2 separate regions of the Homo sapiens genome follow, and region 1 is linked to region 2. Evidence: fine-mapped expression QTL. A gene starts in region 2. The other region holds a variant in brackets. All regions are shown on one strand. Distances are between the middles of the regions. Region 1 overlaps GSR (glutathione-disulfide reductase). Region 2 holds the start of GSR (glutathione-disulfide reductase).

Region 1 (8,329 bases), 44 kb before region 2:
CCACACTCGGGTAATTTTTTTTACTCTCTGTAGAGATGCAGTCTTGCTATGCTGTGCATGCTGGCCTCAAACTTGTAGGCTCAAGTAATCCTCCTGCCTCGGCCTCCCAAAGTGCTAGAATTACAGGCCTGAGCCACCGTGCCTTGCCACAAACTATTTTTAATCATTAAAAAAGAAAAAAGAAAATAAGGCAGGCCGGCTTCTCACATTACATGCTTTTAGAAAAAGGTCTCATCCTTGAAGCAGCTTTGTTATATGCAGAGCACAGTACTGGCTTCAAAAAATATATAAAGGTTCTGTGCACTGGCACTGTTTACATGTGAAGAATTGCCATCAACTTCTGTGAAAATTAGCAAGCTGGCACAGTGGCTCACGCCTGTAATCTCAGCACCTCAGGAGGCCGAGGTGGGCGGATCACCTGAAGGTGGGAGTTTGAGACCAGCCTGACCAACATGGAGAAACCCCATGTCTACTAAAAATACAAAATTAGTCAGGCATGGTGGTGCGTGCCTGTAATTCCAGCTATTCGGGAGGCTAAGGCAGGAGAATCACTTGAACCCAGGAGGCAGAGGTTGTGGTGAGCTGAAATAGCACCACCGCACTCCAGCCTGGGCAATGAGAGCAAAACTCTGTCTCAAAAAAAAAAAAAAAAAAAGTAGCAAGTTCTATTCATTCAAGTACATTAAGTTAATTGTACTTCACAAAGCTTTATATTTGGGATGAGGCTAAAACAGAAAAAAAAAACTAGCACAGAGCTGTTAATAAAAAAAAAACTTGAAAATATTAATTACTGTGAGATGTGATCAAATGAAAATCAATCCTGGATAACACTACAAATTTCTAACTCCATAAATAAGTTCTATTATGTACTAAAAATTTCCACTATCAGAAGATCCTGATTAAAATAAAGAAATACATAAAACTCAAACAGTAAGTCAATGTGATTATTTGTTTCATTTCAGAAGATCTATGGGTCCCACTGCCCGCCACACGTGTCTCCTGGTTCTCAACGAAGTGTGACCAGCTCTTCTGAAGAGGTAGGGTGAATGGCGACTGTGTTGTCAAAGTCTGCCTTCGTTGCTCCCATCTTCACTGCAACAGCAAAACCCTGCAGCATTTCATCACACCCAAGTCCCTGCATATGGATCCCAACCACCTGGGAAAAGAAGAGAAACATTTTCTTTTCTTTCTTCTTTTTTTTTTTTTTTTGAGACGGAGTTTCACTCTTGTTGCCCAGGCTGGAGTGCAATGGCATGATCTCGGCTCGCTGCAACCTCCACCTCCCGGGTTCAAGTGATTCTCCTGCCTCAGCCTCCCGAGTAGCTGGGATTACAGGCGCGCACCACCACGCCTGGCTAATTTTGTATTTTTAGCAGAGAGAGGGTTTCACCATGTTGGCCAGGCTGGTCTTGAACTCCTGGGCTCAAGTGATCCACCCACCTCAGCCTCCCAAAGTGCTGGGATTACAGGGGTGAGCCACGGTGTCTGACTGATATTGTGATCTTAATTGAACTTATAAAGAGCCTCTGGTGATGGCCAGCTCTTCATATTATTCCTCTCTATATAGCAGTTCTTAGTCTTGAGAAGAATGACAAATAATGTTTATCAACTGAATGAATGATAACTGGCATGAAGAAATAACTAAGTAGGAGCCTTCATGATTCAATATCCAGAAATCATAGGCTACTGAGGAATGTTCATGGCACCACCATGCCCGGCCAATTTTTGTATTTTTAGTAGAGATGGGGTTTCACCATGCTGCCCAAGCTACTCTCAAACTCCTGAGCTCAGGCAATCCGCCTACCTTGGCCTCCCAAAGTGTTAGGATTATAGGCGTGAGCCACAGCGCCTGGCCCTGGCCTCTCCTGTTTTTTTTTTTTTTTTTTTTTTTTTTGCTTTGAGATGGAGTCTCGCTTTGTCTCCCAGGCTGGAGGGCAGTAGCATGATCTTGGCTCACTGCAACCTCCGCCTCCCAGGTTCAAGTGATTCTCCTGCCTCAGCCTCCCGAGTAGCTGGGATTACAAGCACGCACCATCATGCCTGGCTAATTTTTGTGTTTTTAGTAGAGACAGGGTTTCACCACGTTGGTCAGGCTAGTCTCAAACTCCTGACCTCAGGTGATATGCCTGCCTCGGCCTCCCAGCGTGCTGGGATTACAGGTGTGAGCCACCACGCCTGGCATCGTCTTTATTTTTTAAAAGGAGTGGAACCTCCTTCTAGATGAAATATTATGAAGAACCCCAAAATGCAGGTAAGACAGATCAAAGTGGGCCTGTCCAGTTGAATCAGAAGGCTCAACTGCTTGGTCTCCCTCCTTTCCACCCCTGCAAAATACTGCCATCCCTGTCCATTTTGCAAGGCACTATTTAGTTTGCTGGATTTTTCCTTACCTTTTCTTCCTTGTTAGCACAGACCATTTTCATCACACATTTTGTTTTCCTTTTGGTAACTGCGTGATACATCGGGGTAAAGCTCGTTGAATAGGTCTTCACATTTTCTATTCCATATTTATGAATGGCTTCATCTACAATGCACATTAAAAAAAGCATCTATCAGAAAACTAAACAATTACACTGAACTATCAAAGAGGGAGATGACCAGAAATACATAACCTCAATCAAACCACGAGGAAATATCAAACCACGCCAAAATGAGAAGTATTCTACAAAATAAATGTCAGTGTCATATAAGACAAAAGAAGGGCTGAGGAATTCTGCCTCTAGATGAAAAGAAAGGCCAGGCACAGTGGCTCATGCCTGTAATCCCTGCACTTTGAGAGGCAGAGGCAGGTGGATCGCTTGAGCCCAGGAGATTGAGACCAGCCTGGGCAACACAGTGAAACCCCATCTCTACAAAAAATTAGCCAGGCATGGTGGTGGTGCAGGCCTGGTAGTCCCAGCTATTCGGGAGGCTGAGGCAGAAGAATTGCTTGAACCCAGAGGCGGAGGTTGCAGTGAGCAGAGATCGTGCCACTGCACTCCAGCCTGGGTGACAGTGGGAGAGCTTGTCTCAAAAAGAAAAAAAAAAAGAAAATGATACTCGGTTTATGTAAGGGCCAGTTCTTAGGAAAGATAGACATGTGTGTGTGTAGAGTGAAAAAATAAAAAAGCAAAAATATTAAGGTTAGAGAGGAGTCCTTTGTATTATTTTTAGAGCTTTTCTTTAAATTTAAAATTAGTTCAAATAAAAAAGCTAAAAAAAAAAGATCAAAGAGATAGGGTGGTGTGAAGGAAAGATACTGTACACTCAAAGTAGTAGCAGGGGAGAAAACTGGAACTGTGACAAGAGAGTAACCAAAAAGCAATGTAATCTGGGGCTGAGATAGGTTTCATCAGCTGACAGAGACCTAATTTAAAGTTGGGGGCAGGGGAAAGAGGAAGGAAACCACAAATGACCTTCAGTTTTTAAATACCTACCTTCCGTGAGTCCCACTGTCCCAATAGGGGGGTGGCTGAAGACCACAGTTGGGATGTTGTTATAATCTAATTTGGAATCTTCCTTATATTCAAAAAGTCGATGGGCAAGTTTTCGGCCAGCAGCTATTGCAACTATGGAGATATTTTAAAATCAGTGTTTATCTTACTGTCTGTTT[T/G]AACATAGCTAAATTGTTCCACTAGCCATTTATCCATCTACCTTAATGCCCTAGTTCTGACAGTTTCACACCATTGTTCATTACACTATCTAGATAGTTTAATACAGCGAAGATATGTCATGCCTCAGCGAACAACTCAAAATGATTGGCTTATGAGAATCCTATACATTCTATTACAGGTTGAGCATCCCTAATCCAGAAATTCAAAATCCAAAATCCAAAATGTTGGAGCACCATGATGCCACAAGCAGAAAATTCCACACCTGACCTCATGTGAAGGGTTGCAGTCAAAAACGCAGACAAAAGTATGCCTCATGCACACATTTAAAATATCGTATAAAGTTACCTACCAACTATGTGTATAAGGTGTATGTAAAACAAATGAATTCCGTGTTTCGACTTGGGTCGCATCTGCAAAATATCTCATTATATATATGCAAATATTCCAAAATCTGAAACTGAAAACACTTCTGGTCCCAAGCATTTCAGATAAGGGATGCTCAACCTGTCTGGCCCCACTCCCAAAAGACACATTCACAAGTTCTCACTTACCTGGCAGTTAATCTACTTAATGAAGATATTAGCTTTTTAATACAATATTTATGGAACAAGCTATATTAGTTTTCAGCATCTTTAGTTCTATTTTATAACCCTAAAGTGCTGGAATTACAGGCATGAGCCACTGCGCCTAGAATCTTTATTATTATTATCATTATTATTATATTATTATTTTTTTTTTTTAGACAGAGTCTCGCTCTTGTTGCCAGGCTGGAGAGCAGTGGCGCCATCTCAGCTCGCTGCAACCTCTGCCTCCCGGGTTGAAGCAATTCTCCTGCCTCAGCCTCCCAAGTAGCTGGGACTACAGGCGTGTGCCACCACGCCCAGCTAATTTTTGTATTTTTAGCAGAGATGGGGTTTCACCATGTTGGTCAGGAAGGTCTCGATCTCTGGACCTCGTGATCTGCCCACCTCGGCCTCACAAAGTGCTGAGATTACAGGCGTGAGCCACCGTGCCCAGCTGAATCTTTATTTTTTTAATACAGACAACATCTCACTATGTTGCCCAGCCTGGTCTCAAACTACTAGACTCAAGCGATCCCCCAACTTCAGCCTCTGAAAGTGATGGGAGCCACCACACCTAGCCAAGAGCAAGAACTTTCTAAAGGAGCTAAAAGGGTTTGGGTGTGTGACTGGTGTAGGTTTTCATCCTGATATAAGGCCCTGGGACACGCTGGAATCGCTGATGAGGTTCTAGGTACAGACTGAAAGTAGATCAAGTGATCATTAATGGATAGAGATGGGACAGAGCTTGCAATGGTGCTTAGGAAGCGGGCTGAGGTGTGGGATGCCGGAGAGAAGGAAATCAGTCTTGGTTGTATCAAGACCAGTCATACAAGAATGACAATCTAGGCCATGTGTGGTGGCTCATGCCTGTAATCCTAACATTCTGGGAGGCTGAGGCAGGCAGTCTGCTTAAGCACAGGGGTTCAAGACAACATGGTAAAACCCTGTCTCTACAAAAAATGCACCTGTGATCCTAGCTACTTGGGAGTCTGAGGTGGGAGGATCACCTGAGCCCAGGAAGGTTGAAACTGCAGTGAGCCCGTGATCATGCCACTGCACTCCAGCCTGGGTAACAGAGTGTCTCCAAAAAAAAAAAAAATGCCAATCTAAATTACTTCTTCCAAATGCCACTTCCTTCCACTGCCACCAAGCACAAGTCTGCTCCTAAGAGAGTTCCGCAACGGGTGATCATATTGTCTACATGAAAACTTCAGTCTGTGCTAAGCATTTTAAGTCTTTTATTCAGATAATGTCAGGTATCCAACCAATATCTATTTCAACACATTGTACCATTTTGACAATATAAAGACACTCATCCTTTTAACTTTGCTTAAGCAGACTGCAGATTTGACAGTGAAGAGCCAGATGGATCATGTAACACGCAGACCCTCCCTCACCAAGAAGGGAAGAGACCTTACCTGGAGTAAGAAGAGCTTTTCCACATACATCCCCAACTGCATAGATGCCTTTGACGTTGGTATTCTGGAATTCGTCTACGATGATATGACCCTTGTCATCGGTTTGAATCCCCTAAAATTACAAAGAGATATCATGTAACCACTTGGCCCACCTACTAAAAAAGGTAGATCAAACCTCTGGATCTCCCTTCCTCATTTCACATGGGAACTGCAGCCAGAATCTCCAAGAAACCATGAGACTCAGCTGCAACACGAAAGGCATTTACAGCTGGCAAGTTTCAAGCTGGGTACAGTGGGCCCACACCTGTAACCCCAGAACTTTGAGAAGCCGAAGAGGGAGGATCCCTTAAGCCCAGGAGTTTGAGATCAGCTTGGGCAACACAGTGAGACCCTGCCTCTGTTAGAAATTAGAAAAAAAAAAGTTGGCAAGTTTCATATCTTGCTTAACATAAAAGGTAGTATTTTATCCACTTTTGAGATGTTTTAACAGGATTTGACATTGCAATGTACAATTCAACTGGCCAGGCAGACATGAAGAGGATCACTCAACTATCAGGTGTGCCACTTGGAATCCCTCTGGAGTCCAGCTTTTCAACTTGTCCCATGGAAGCACTGCTCCTGAGGAACACTGACTCAAGCAGTCACCAAAAGCATATCTATGTTTATTTAGTTTTTTTTTAGAGACAGGGTCTCGCTCTGTTACCCAGGCTGGAGTGCAGTGGTGTGATCATGGCTCACTGCAATCTTGACCTCCTGGGCTTAAGCAATCCTCCTGCTTAGCCTCCCGAGTAGCTAGAACTAGAGGCATGTGCCATCACACCTGGATAATTTTTTAACATACATTTATTTATTTATTTATTTATTTATTTATTTATTTATTTATTTATTTATTTATTTATTGAGATGGAGTCTCGCTCTGTCGCCCAGGCTGGCGCGATCTAGGCTCTCTGCAAGCTCTGCCTCCCAGGTTCACGCCATTCTCCTGCCTCAGCCTCCCGAGTAGCTGGGACTACAGGTGCCCGCCGCCACACCCAGCTAATTTTTTTGTATTTTTAGTAGAGACGGGGTTTCACCATGTTAGCCAGGATGGTCTTGATCTCCTGACCTCGTGATCCACCTGCCTCGGCCTCCCAGAGTGTTGGGATTACAGGCGTGAACCACCACGCCTAGCCTTTTTAACATTTTTTTATAGAATAGGTCTTGCTGTTTCCCAGGCTGACCTCAAACTTCTGGCCTCAAGTGATCCTCACGCCTAGGTCTCCCAAAGCACTGGGGTTACAGGTGTGAGCCACCATGCCTGGCCAAAAGCACATTTCTATGAAGCTTACCATTTTGTCTTTAAAAATCCAAGCAACTTTTGCACTCTACTCTAAAACATACTGATGTTTTTTTCAGACTCCCAGAAGAAAAGTAAAAGCAAAACAAAACAAAAACACATATTGATGTTTCCCTTAACCAAAAATATTTTCCTATATGTAGTCAAATTTTTGCTTTAAGAAGACATGTTATGCTTATCATGTGGCTTTGCAAATCCTAAGTATATATGAGAAGTAGAGATATGGCAGAAGTAGGAAGTAAGTAGCCACAGAGCTTAAGAGTACAACTGGCCAGGCGCAGTGGTTCAGGCCTGTAAATCCTAGCACTTCGGGAGGCCAAGGCGGGCGGATCACCTGAGGTCAGGAGTTTGAGACCAGCCTGGCCAACATGGTGAAACCCTGTCTCTACTAAAAATACTAAAAATTCGCCAGGCATGGTGGTGCATGCCCACCTACTTGGCAAGTCCCAGCTACTTGGGAAGCTGAGGCAGGAGAATCACTTGAACCCAGGGGGCGGAGATTGCAGTAAGCTGAGATGGCACCACTGACTCCAGCCTGGGCAACAGAAAGAGACTCTGCCTCAAAAAAAAAAAAAAAAAAAAAAAAAAAAGAGTACAACCTTTGGTACAGACAGACCAAAATTCAAATCCTAGCTCTGCAACTTACCGGTTATGAGACCTTGTATAACCACCTGTTTATCAACAAATATTTAAGCTTCTATTACAAATGAGACTTTGACTTCATCACTGAGAATACCATGGTAAGACAGACATTCTCCCTACACCATAGAGTTTACAGCCCAGTAAATTATCTAGTATCTCTGTGCTCCTGGCTTCCTTATACCTTGCCGGTTGTTGGCAAGATTAAATTAGATTAGTAACATGTTGACAAGACCTAGCACATAGTAATCACTCAATTTGCATTATATAAATATATCTTAATGTCAAATGAGACTGAACCTTTTTTTTTTGCCTCATTCTTCAAAAATTTAGCAAATATAGGCTGGGTGCAATGGCTCATGCCTGTAATCCCAGCACTTTGGGAAGCTGAGGTGGAAGGATCGCTTGAGCCCAGTTCAAAATTAGCCTGGGTAATACAGCGAGACCTTGTGTCTACAAAAATTTTTTTTAAAAATTAGCCAGGTGTGGTGGACCACGCCTGTAGTTCCTACTACTTGGGAGACTAAGGTAGAAGGATGGCTTGAGCCCAGGAGTTTGATGCTGCAAGGATGCAGTGAGCCATGATGGCACCACTGTACTCCAGCCTAGGTGACAGAGCAAGACCCTATCCAACCCCCCCAAAAAAAGTTAGCAAATTTAGTTGAAAACTGGACCTATCAGTGCTTACATCTGTACAATGGCAAAATATCTCTTGAAAGGTGAAAAGCTGAATGACCAGTTTTTTGTTGTTGTTGTTTTCTTTTGGTGTTTTTTTTTGGT
Region 2 (8,329 bases):
AAAAAAAGCATGTCCAGTGTTCAGCTTTACCAGGGTATAGACATCATAATATCAAAGTACACAGTATCACTTCCAAATGAGGTTATGATTTACATGTTGCTGGGTAATTGTTTTCAGCCTAGATGAACAATGATTCACTGAGCAGCCTGCTGTTCACTGATCTTTCAAAGCCCCTACCTCTCTCTCCCCTAGGCCTCTCCAACTGCTGCTGTGCAGCATAGTTCACTGTGACTTGGCAATCATGAACTTTTGTCACATGATCAACCCTTACTACCCAACTCTCATTGGTAAGTACTACTCGCCAAAACCACAGGAACCTGGTTATTCTTATCACAGAATCAGTACACTCAGCAGGAACCCAGGACCGCAAGTTCCCCAGGCCCTGGGGCAAAGGGAGCAGCAATTTAGAAACAACTTTTCCTTAAGCTGACTCTCCCATCACGTGTGTAGGCAGAGAAGCGAACCACAGAGGCAAAGCTCCCAGAAGGCTCTAATTCACCTTGACTTTGGGCGATCTTTGCATTTCTCTCCAGTCTACACGAGATCATGAGATAAGCAATATACTTAACCTTTTGGAGACTTGAAATGCTGAATTCAAGCAAGGCTCAGTGGTATCTACCTGCAGAACCAGCTAGTCGGGAGGTTGAGGTGGGAGGATCGCTTGAGCCCAGGAGTTTGAGGCTACAGTGAGCTGAGATCACACCACTGCCCTCCAGCCTGGGAAACAGAGGGAGACCCTGTCTCTTAAAAATGAAACAACATGCCAGACGCGGTGGCTCATACTTGTAATCCCAGCACTTTGGGAGGCTGAGGCGGGTGGATCACTTTAGGTCAGGAGTTCGGGATCAGCCTGGCCAACATGGTGAAACCTCATCTCTACTAAAAATACAAAAAATTTGCCAGGCGTGGTGGCCTGCGCCTGTAGTCCCAGCTACTTACGAGGCTGAGGCACATGAATTCCTTGAACCCAGGAGACGGAGGTTGCAGTGAGCCGAGATCACCCCACTGCACTCCAGCCTGGGTGACAGAGCAACAAACACACACACACACACACACACACACACACACACACCCAGGTCTGCTGGGACCTAGTACAGGAGACTGGTCCAAAACAATGGCCTCCCATAAACTTTAACGGTTGAACAATTAAATGAAGGAACACTGATAAAACAATGAAAAACCAACCAATCTCACTACCTGTAAATGACCACTGCTAGACACACATTCTAATTTGAACCTTCCGTGTGAGTTCATTCACCACAACTTTAAAACTTCCCCAAGCGTTAGAAATTAATGGATTTTATTTAGGAAAGAACTCATGGGAGAACCAATCTTAAACTTCTGCCGTGCACAGTGGCTCACGCCTGTAATCCTAACACTTTCGGAGACCAAAGCAGGAGGATTGCTTGAGTCCAGGAGTTCAATACCAGCCTAGGCAATGTAGTGAGACCCTATCTCTATAAACTGAAAGGAAAAGAAAAAGAAAAAGACAGAAAGACAAACTTCTATTGGGCATCGCCAAGGGTGAGATCTCAATCCTATGGCTTACCACAAAACTACTTTCACTGAGTCACTGGTTTGCTCAAACCCACCCCTGCCCCCATAGTTCACTGTGTGTCCAGAAACTCCACATTTTTCAAACCACAACCTACCCATCAGCTTCTCATCTCTTATTTCTATTAAAGAGACACTCTGTGCTCCAAATTTGATTACACAACATATCCCGTTTTGATGCCTAGGCCTGGGACCCATCTTTTGAGGTTCCGAATGTCAAAGAATACTACCCAACCCCCCACCTTTTTTTTTTTTTTTTTTTTTTGAGACAGAGTCTCACTCTGTTGCCCACACTGGAGTGCAGAGGCATGATCTTGGCTCACTGCAACCTCTGCCTCCTGGGCTCAAGTGATTCTCATGCCTCAGCCTCCCAAGTAGCATGTGCCACCACACCCGGCTAATTTTTGTATTTTTAGTAGAGACGGAGTTTCACCGTGTTGGCCAGGCTGGTCTCGAACTCCTGACCTCAGGTGATCTGCCCACCTTGGCCTCCCAAAGTGCTGGCGTGAGCCATCACGCCCAGCCTAGATGGTTACATTCTTGTGAGGTTCTTATGAGCCTCAGTAAATCTACATTTTACATAAGATAAAGTAAAAGTGAAAAGCAGGAGTAGAGGAGATAAGGCTATGACATGGGATTGTGAAATTACAGCTGTCTGTTTGGGAACAAAAGGAAAAGCAGTATTTGTGTGATTCAGTTCCCAAGCTGAACTTTCCTTCTGGCATACTTTGGGGTTCCAATATTTTTTTCTTTCACAACCACAAAATTCCTTAAGGGAAGGGACATGTCTCACAAATGTTTATATCTATCGTTTTCTCCCTACCCACCCCCAATCCCAGCACTTAAAATACAAAAAATGGGACAGGAGTGGTGGCTGATGCCTGTAATCCCAGCATTTTGGGAGGCCAAGGCAGGCCGACTGCTTAAGCACAGGCATAAGAGACCAGTTTGGGCAACATGGCAAAACCCTGTTTCTAAAAAACAATAAATAAAATAAAAACAGGCCAGGCGTGGTGGCTCACGCCTGTAATCCCAGCACTTTGGGAGGCTGAGGTGAGCGGATCACAAGGTCAGGAGTTCAAGACCAGCCTGGCTCTACTAAAAATACAAAAGTTAGCTGGGTGTAGTGGCACCTGTAATCTCAGCAATTTGGGAGGCCGAGGCAGGAGAGTTGCTTGAACCCAGGAGGCGGAGGTTGCAGTGAGCCGAGATTGCACCACTGCACTCCAGCCTGGGTGACAGAGCAAGACTCCATATCGAAAAAAAAATAGATAAATACATTTTAAAAATAAAAAATTAGCTGGGTGTGGTGGCTCATGCTTGTAATCCAAGCACTTTGGGAGGCCAAGGTGGGTGGATTACCAGAGGTCAGGAGTTTGAGACCAGCCTGGCCAACATGGCAAAACCCCATCTCTATTAAAAGTACAAAAACTAGCCGGGCATGGTGGCATGCACCTGCATTCCCAGCTACTCGAGAGGCTGAGACGGGAGAACTGCTTGAACCTGGGAGGCAGAGGTTGCAGTGAGCCCAGATTGCACCACTGTACTCCAGCCTGGGTGACAGAGTGAGACTCCCTCTCAAAAAAAAAAAAAAAAAAAGAATTCATAACAGGAAGGTAAAGTGGGTGAACCTCTGAAGCACATTATAACATAAGTAGAGAAAGAGGAAGACAGAGAAAATGTGGAGAGCAGAACAGAAGTGAGAAGTGATCAAGTACTCTCATGAGGTGTGGGAGGGGGGCACTTAGTGGCACCCCACAATCTGCCTTCTGGAGAGACAGATTTCTAACCTTCTGTCTGGACTATGGTGTCAAAGTGCAAGTTGATAATTAACAGAGATTTTTCCTTTCTCTTCATCTCCATGTTCATCTCCAAGGCACTGAACAATGAAGTCAACCTTTTCATAACTGTCCATTTTTAGTTTCATTCATTGCACAAGTGCTTATTGAGCAAGGGATTTTAAGGTGATAAGAGACACACAAACACAGAAGCCCATCCCTGTCCTTAAAGAGCTCCCAATTTGACATAATTTAAATATTCATCTCCAAAGGAATTTAGAGAACCTATCCCAAATCCCAGGTTCCTCTTGGATACAGCATTTTAATCGTCAACACCCAAATCTTGTGATAGAAAAGGGCGGGCACACCAATAACTTGGAAACAACATTTATTTTTAGAATGAGTGCAGTGGCTCAGGCTTGTAATCCCAGCACTTTGGGAGGCTGAGGCGGGAAGATCGGTTGAGTCCAAGAGGTTGAAATCAGCAAGGGCAACATAGCGAGACCCCCATCTCTACAAAAAATAATAATAATTAACTAGGCGTGGTGATTAGCCCCCTGTAGTTCCAGCTACTCAGGAGGCCAAGGTGAGAGGATCCCTTGAGCCCGGGAGTTCGAGGCTGCAGTGAGCTATGATGGCCACTGCACTCTAGCCTAGGTGACAGGGCAAGACCCTGTCTCAAAAAACAAACACAAACAAAAACCCTTATTTTCAAAAATTATGAATTTTGTAAATCTCAGGATTTACATCCCTCTGTTTTTAGTTTTGCAATCCACATAAAACCAAGACAAAACAAAAGCTCTGAGAACTCACCTACTCAAGGTCGCCTTGGCTGCAATTCAGATCACCCGAAAATCCCAAAGCCCAGGCTGCACTTCAGACCAATTAAGTCGGGAAACATCCCAAAGCCCAAGTGCACCTCAGACCAATTAAGTCGGGAATCCAGGCACCCTCAGGTGATTCGAATGTGTAGCCAAGGTTGACAACAACCGCTATAAATCATTCTGCCCTTGAAACGGGAGAACCAGGATCTACATTTTTCAAGAACCAGGATCTATGGCACCGTCACCCTCGTCCCTACACACAGGCCACCAGCAATGTTCCCAGATGCAGTTTTGTGTTTCACGCGGTCAAGAACAGAATCCAATCCTCTCCCACTTGGACAAGTGAGGATGGAGGAAGGTTAATCTAACCCGCCCCGGCCCTGGTCAATATCGCATCCGTGCGGAAGCAGACGCTGGCTCGGCTTTGCGGGCCGCAGAGAAGCCCCCGGACGCCTCTCTCTCCTCCACCTGCTGGGTTCCTGGCTTCGGAATGGGGAGTTGCGGGGGTGGAAAAGAGGAAAGCCCAGCGCCGGGGGACAGGATCGCCATAGGAACGAGCACAGGCTGTCCCCCGAAAGACCGAGACAAAGAGGCGCCCCCCGCCCGAACAAACCGGCGGTACTCACGCAAGTGCCACCCAGCTTGTGGCTCTCCACCACGGCGGCCCTGGCACCCAGCTCGGCCGCCCTGCGCGCGCTGGCCAGCCCGCCCGAGCCGCCCCCGATCACCAGGTAGTCATAGGAGGCCACGGCGCCAGCAGCGGGCGGCGGGCCCTGCGGCTGCGGCTCCTGCCTGCAGGCCATGGCACGGGAGAGGGCGCGCGTGAGGGCCGCGGGCTCGGGCAGAAGCAGCAGGAAGCCTCGGAAGGCGCGCGCCGCCCGCCGCCAGCTCGGTCCCGCGCCGGCGCTCAGGGCTCGGGGCAGCAGGGCCATGCACGCGGAAGTGGCGCGCCAAGTGGGGCGGGCGGCCCGGGGGCGGTCCCCGGGGTAGGGGGGCGCGGGCCCCGGGCAAGCGCAGCCTCACGGTGACTAAGCATGCGCCCGCCGCTAGGCAAGACCCAGGAGGATGCCCAGAGGCGGGGCCGCCTCCCAGTTCCCCGCCCCGGTGGCGGAGCCTGAGGGGTTTCTCCGCCTCCGTTCTCACCCCGGCCCCTGGATCCCGAGCGGCGCCTGCCGCGTGTAGCCTTCTGAAGTCCGGTGGATCGAGGCGAGGAACGGTGAACGTCCTCTCGTTTCAGCTGGCTTTTCCCGAGCTGGCCCCCTGGGGAGTTGCCAGTGGCACGGCTTCTCCAGGAAGAGAAATTTGCCTCTATTCGAAGGGTTGTTTGTCCAGGTTTGTTCCAGAGACCACTTTTGTTTGTTCTTGCTTTTTCTTTGAGACTGGGTCTCACTCTCCCCCAGGCAGGGGTGCAGTGATGCGATCTCTGCTCACTGCAGCCTCCACCTACTGTGCTCAAGCAGCGATCCTCCCTCCTCAGCCTTCCCGGTAGCTGGGAACTACAGGTGCCCGCCACAGCGCCCAGCTAATTTATTTATTTATTTATTTAATTTTTTTTTTTATTTTTTTTATTATTTTTATTTTTTTTTTAGAAATAGGGTCTCACTATGTTACCAGGACTGGTAGGGAACTCTTGGCCTCAAGCGATTCTCTCACCTCGGCCTCCCAAAATGCTAGGATTATGGTATGAGGTCACCACTTCTCCTGTTGTCCTTCTCAGTTTCTCCCCAACCTCCCCTTTTCCCTAGTTTATAAGACAGGAGAAAAGGGAGAAAGCAAAAAGTTGGAAAGAAACAGAAGTAAGATAAATAGCTAGACGACCTTGGCACCACCACCTGGCCCTGGTGGCTAAGATAATAATAATATTATTAACCCCTGACCAAAACTATTGGTGTTATCTGTAAATTCCAGACATTGTATGAGAAAGCACTGTAAAACTTTTTGTTCTGTTAGCTGATGTATATAGCCCCCAGTCACGTTTCCCACGCTTACTTGATCTATTATGATTTTTTCACGTAGACCCCTTAGAGTTGTAAGCCCTTAAAAGGGCTAGGAATTTCTTTTTCGGAGAGCTCGGCTCTCAAGACGCGAGTCTGCCAACGCTCCTGGCCGAATAAAAAACCTCTTCCTGCTTTAATCTGGTGTCTGAGGAGTTTTGTCTGTGACTCATCCTGCTATATTTCTTGGTTCCCTGACTGGGAAGCGAGGTAATTGACGGACAGTCGAGGCAGCCCCTTAGGGGGCTTAGGCCTGCCCTGTGGAGCATCCCTGCGGGGAACTCCCGCCAGCTTGAGCGACGCGGATCCTGCGAGCGCTCCTGGGTAGGCAATTGCCCCGGTGGAACGCCTAGTCAGAGCAGTGCGTGGCAGGCCCCCGTGGAGTATCAACGCAGTGGCTGAACACCGGGAAGGAACAGGCACTTGGAGTCCGGACATTTGAAACTTGGTAAGACTGGTCTTCGGAACTTGCCCACTCCATTTGAGTGGAAGCATGGCCTGATCACCCACGGCGTGCCTGTACTGGCACTTTGGTTTTTGTTTTTGACTTGACTTGAATTGCTTGACACTTTGGTTTTGGTTTGACCTGGCTTGGATTACTGGATACTCTGATTTTGGTTTTGATTCTGGTTTGGTGAAAACTGAAAAAGTGCGTGTGTGCCCTTTTTACCCATTCTTTGTTTTGTGGTGTGCGTTTGGTGTGAGCTTGGTGTTTTGTCTTGAGGAAACACGGGTCAGACACAAAATAAGCCTACTCCTCTAGGAACTATGTTGAAAAATTTTAAGAAGGGATTTAATGGCGACTATGGGGTTACTATGACACCAGGGAAACTTAGAACTTTGTGTGAAATAGATTGGCCAACATTAGAAGTGGGTTGGCCATCAGAAGGAAGCCTGGACAGGTCCCTTGTTTCTAAGGTATGGCACAAGGTAACTGGTAAGTCAGGACACTCAGACCAGTTTCCATACATAGACACTTGGTTACCACAGTGGGTAAGAGGGCAGGCAGCAGCAGTGCTAGTAGCAAAGGGACAGATAGTCAAGGAAGGATCCCGCTCCACCCACCGAGGGAAATCAACTCCTGAAGTTCTGTTCGACCCAACATCAGACGATCCATTGCAGGAGATGGCAAAAGTCATCCCAGTGGTGCCCTCCCCTTACCAGGGAGAGAGGCTCCCCACTTTTGAGTCCACAGTGCTTGTGCCTCCGCAAGACAAACATATCCCTAGGCCACCCAGAGTAGACAAGAGAGGAGGTGAAGCCTCAGGAGAAACCCCTCCCTTGGCAGCTCGTTTAAGACCCAAAACGGGGATACAAATGCCCTTGAGAGAGCAGCGGTATACTGGAATAGATGAGGATGGGCACATGGCGGAGAGGCGTGTTTTTGTGTGCCAGCCCTTCACCTCTGCCGACCTTCTCAACTGGAAAAACAATACCCCGTCCTGTACTGAAAAGCCACAAGCTCTAATTGATTTGCTCCAAACTATTATCCAGACCCATAACCCCACTTGGGCTGATTGCCACCAGTTGCTCATGTTCCTCTTTAACACAGATGAAAGGCGGAGAGTGCTCCAAGCAGCAACTAAGTGGCTAGGGGAACATGCACCGGCTGATTACCAAAACCCCCAAGAGTATGTAAGGACCCAGTTACCGGGAACCGACCCCCAGTGGGACCCAAATGAAAGAGAGGATATGCAAAGGCTAAACCGATACAGGGAAGCTCTCTTAGAAGGATTAGAGGGGAGCCCAGAAGGCCACAAACGTTAATAAGTTCTCTGAGGTCATTCAGGGAAAAGAAGAAAGTCCAGCACAATTCTACGAGAGACTGTGTGAGGCCTATCACATGTATACTCCCTTTGATCCCGATAGCCCTGAAAATCAACGCATGATTAACATGGCTTTAGTTAGTCAAAGCGCAGAAGACATTAGAAGAAAACTGCAGAAACAGGCTGGGTTTGCAGGGATGAACACATCACAATTATTAGAAATAGCTAACCAGGTGTTTGTAAACAGGGATGCAGTAAGCCGTAAGGAAAACCGCAGAGAGAATGAACGTCAGGCCCGGCGAAATGCCGAGCTGTTAGCTGCAGCAATTAGAGGGATCTCCCACAAAAAGGCAAGGGAAGGGGGGCCCCGGGAAAGAAACTCAGCCTGGCTGTCAGAGCTTGCAGCGTAATCA

Evidence for each region. PIP is the estimated chance that this variant, and not a neighbour inherited with it, causes the effect.
Region 1: its variant is fine-mapped to the expression of GSR in whole blood (INTERVAL, PIP 0.93).

Annotation. Positions count from the first base shown.
Region 1 is chr8:30,678,514-30,686,842 of GRCh38, forward strand. GSR (glutathione-disulfide reductase) reads right to left here. Exons shown (of 13, transcript NM_000637.5): 10 at 5,575-5,686; 11 at 3,417-3,548; 12 at 2,391-2,524; 13 at 1-1,156. The coding sequence ends at 1,007. Among named protein-coding and RNA genes, the nearest start is that of GTF2E2, 24 kb to the left of the region's middle. The variant T/G (reference allele first, on the strand shown) is at 3,593.
Region 2 is chr8:30,722,748-30,731,076 of GRCh38, forward strand. It overlaps GSR (glutathione-disulfide reductase), which reads right to left and starts at 5,099. Exons shown (of 13, transcript NM_000637.5): 1 at 4,783-5,099. The coding sequence starts at 5,088. It also overlaps a transcript of UBXN8 not described here. RefSeq lists silencers at 1,556-1,615, 4,760-5,199, 5,270-5,359 and enhancers at 3,997-4,684, 6,447-6,971.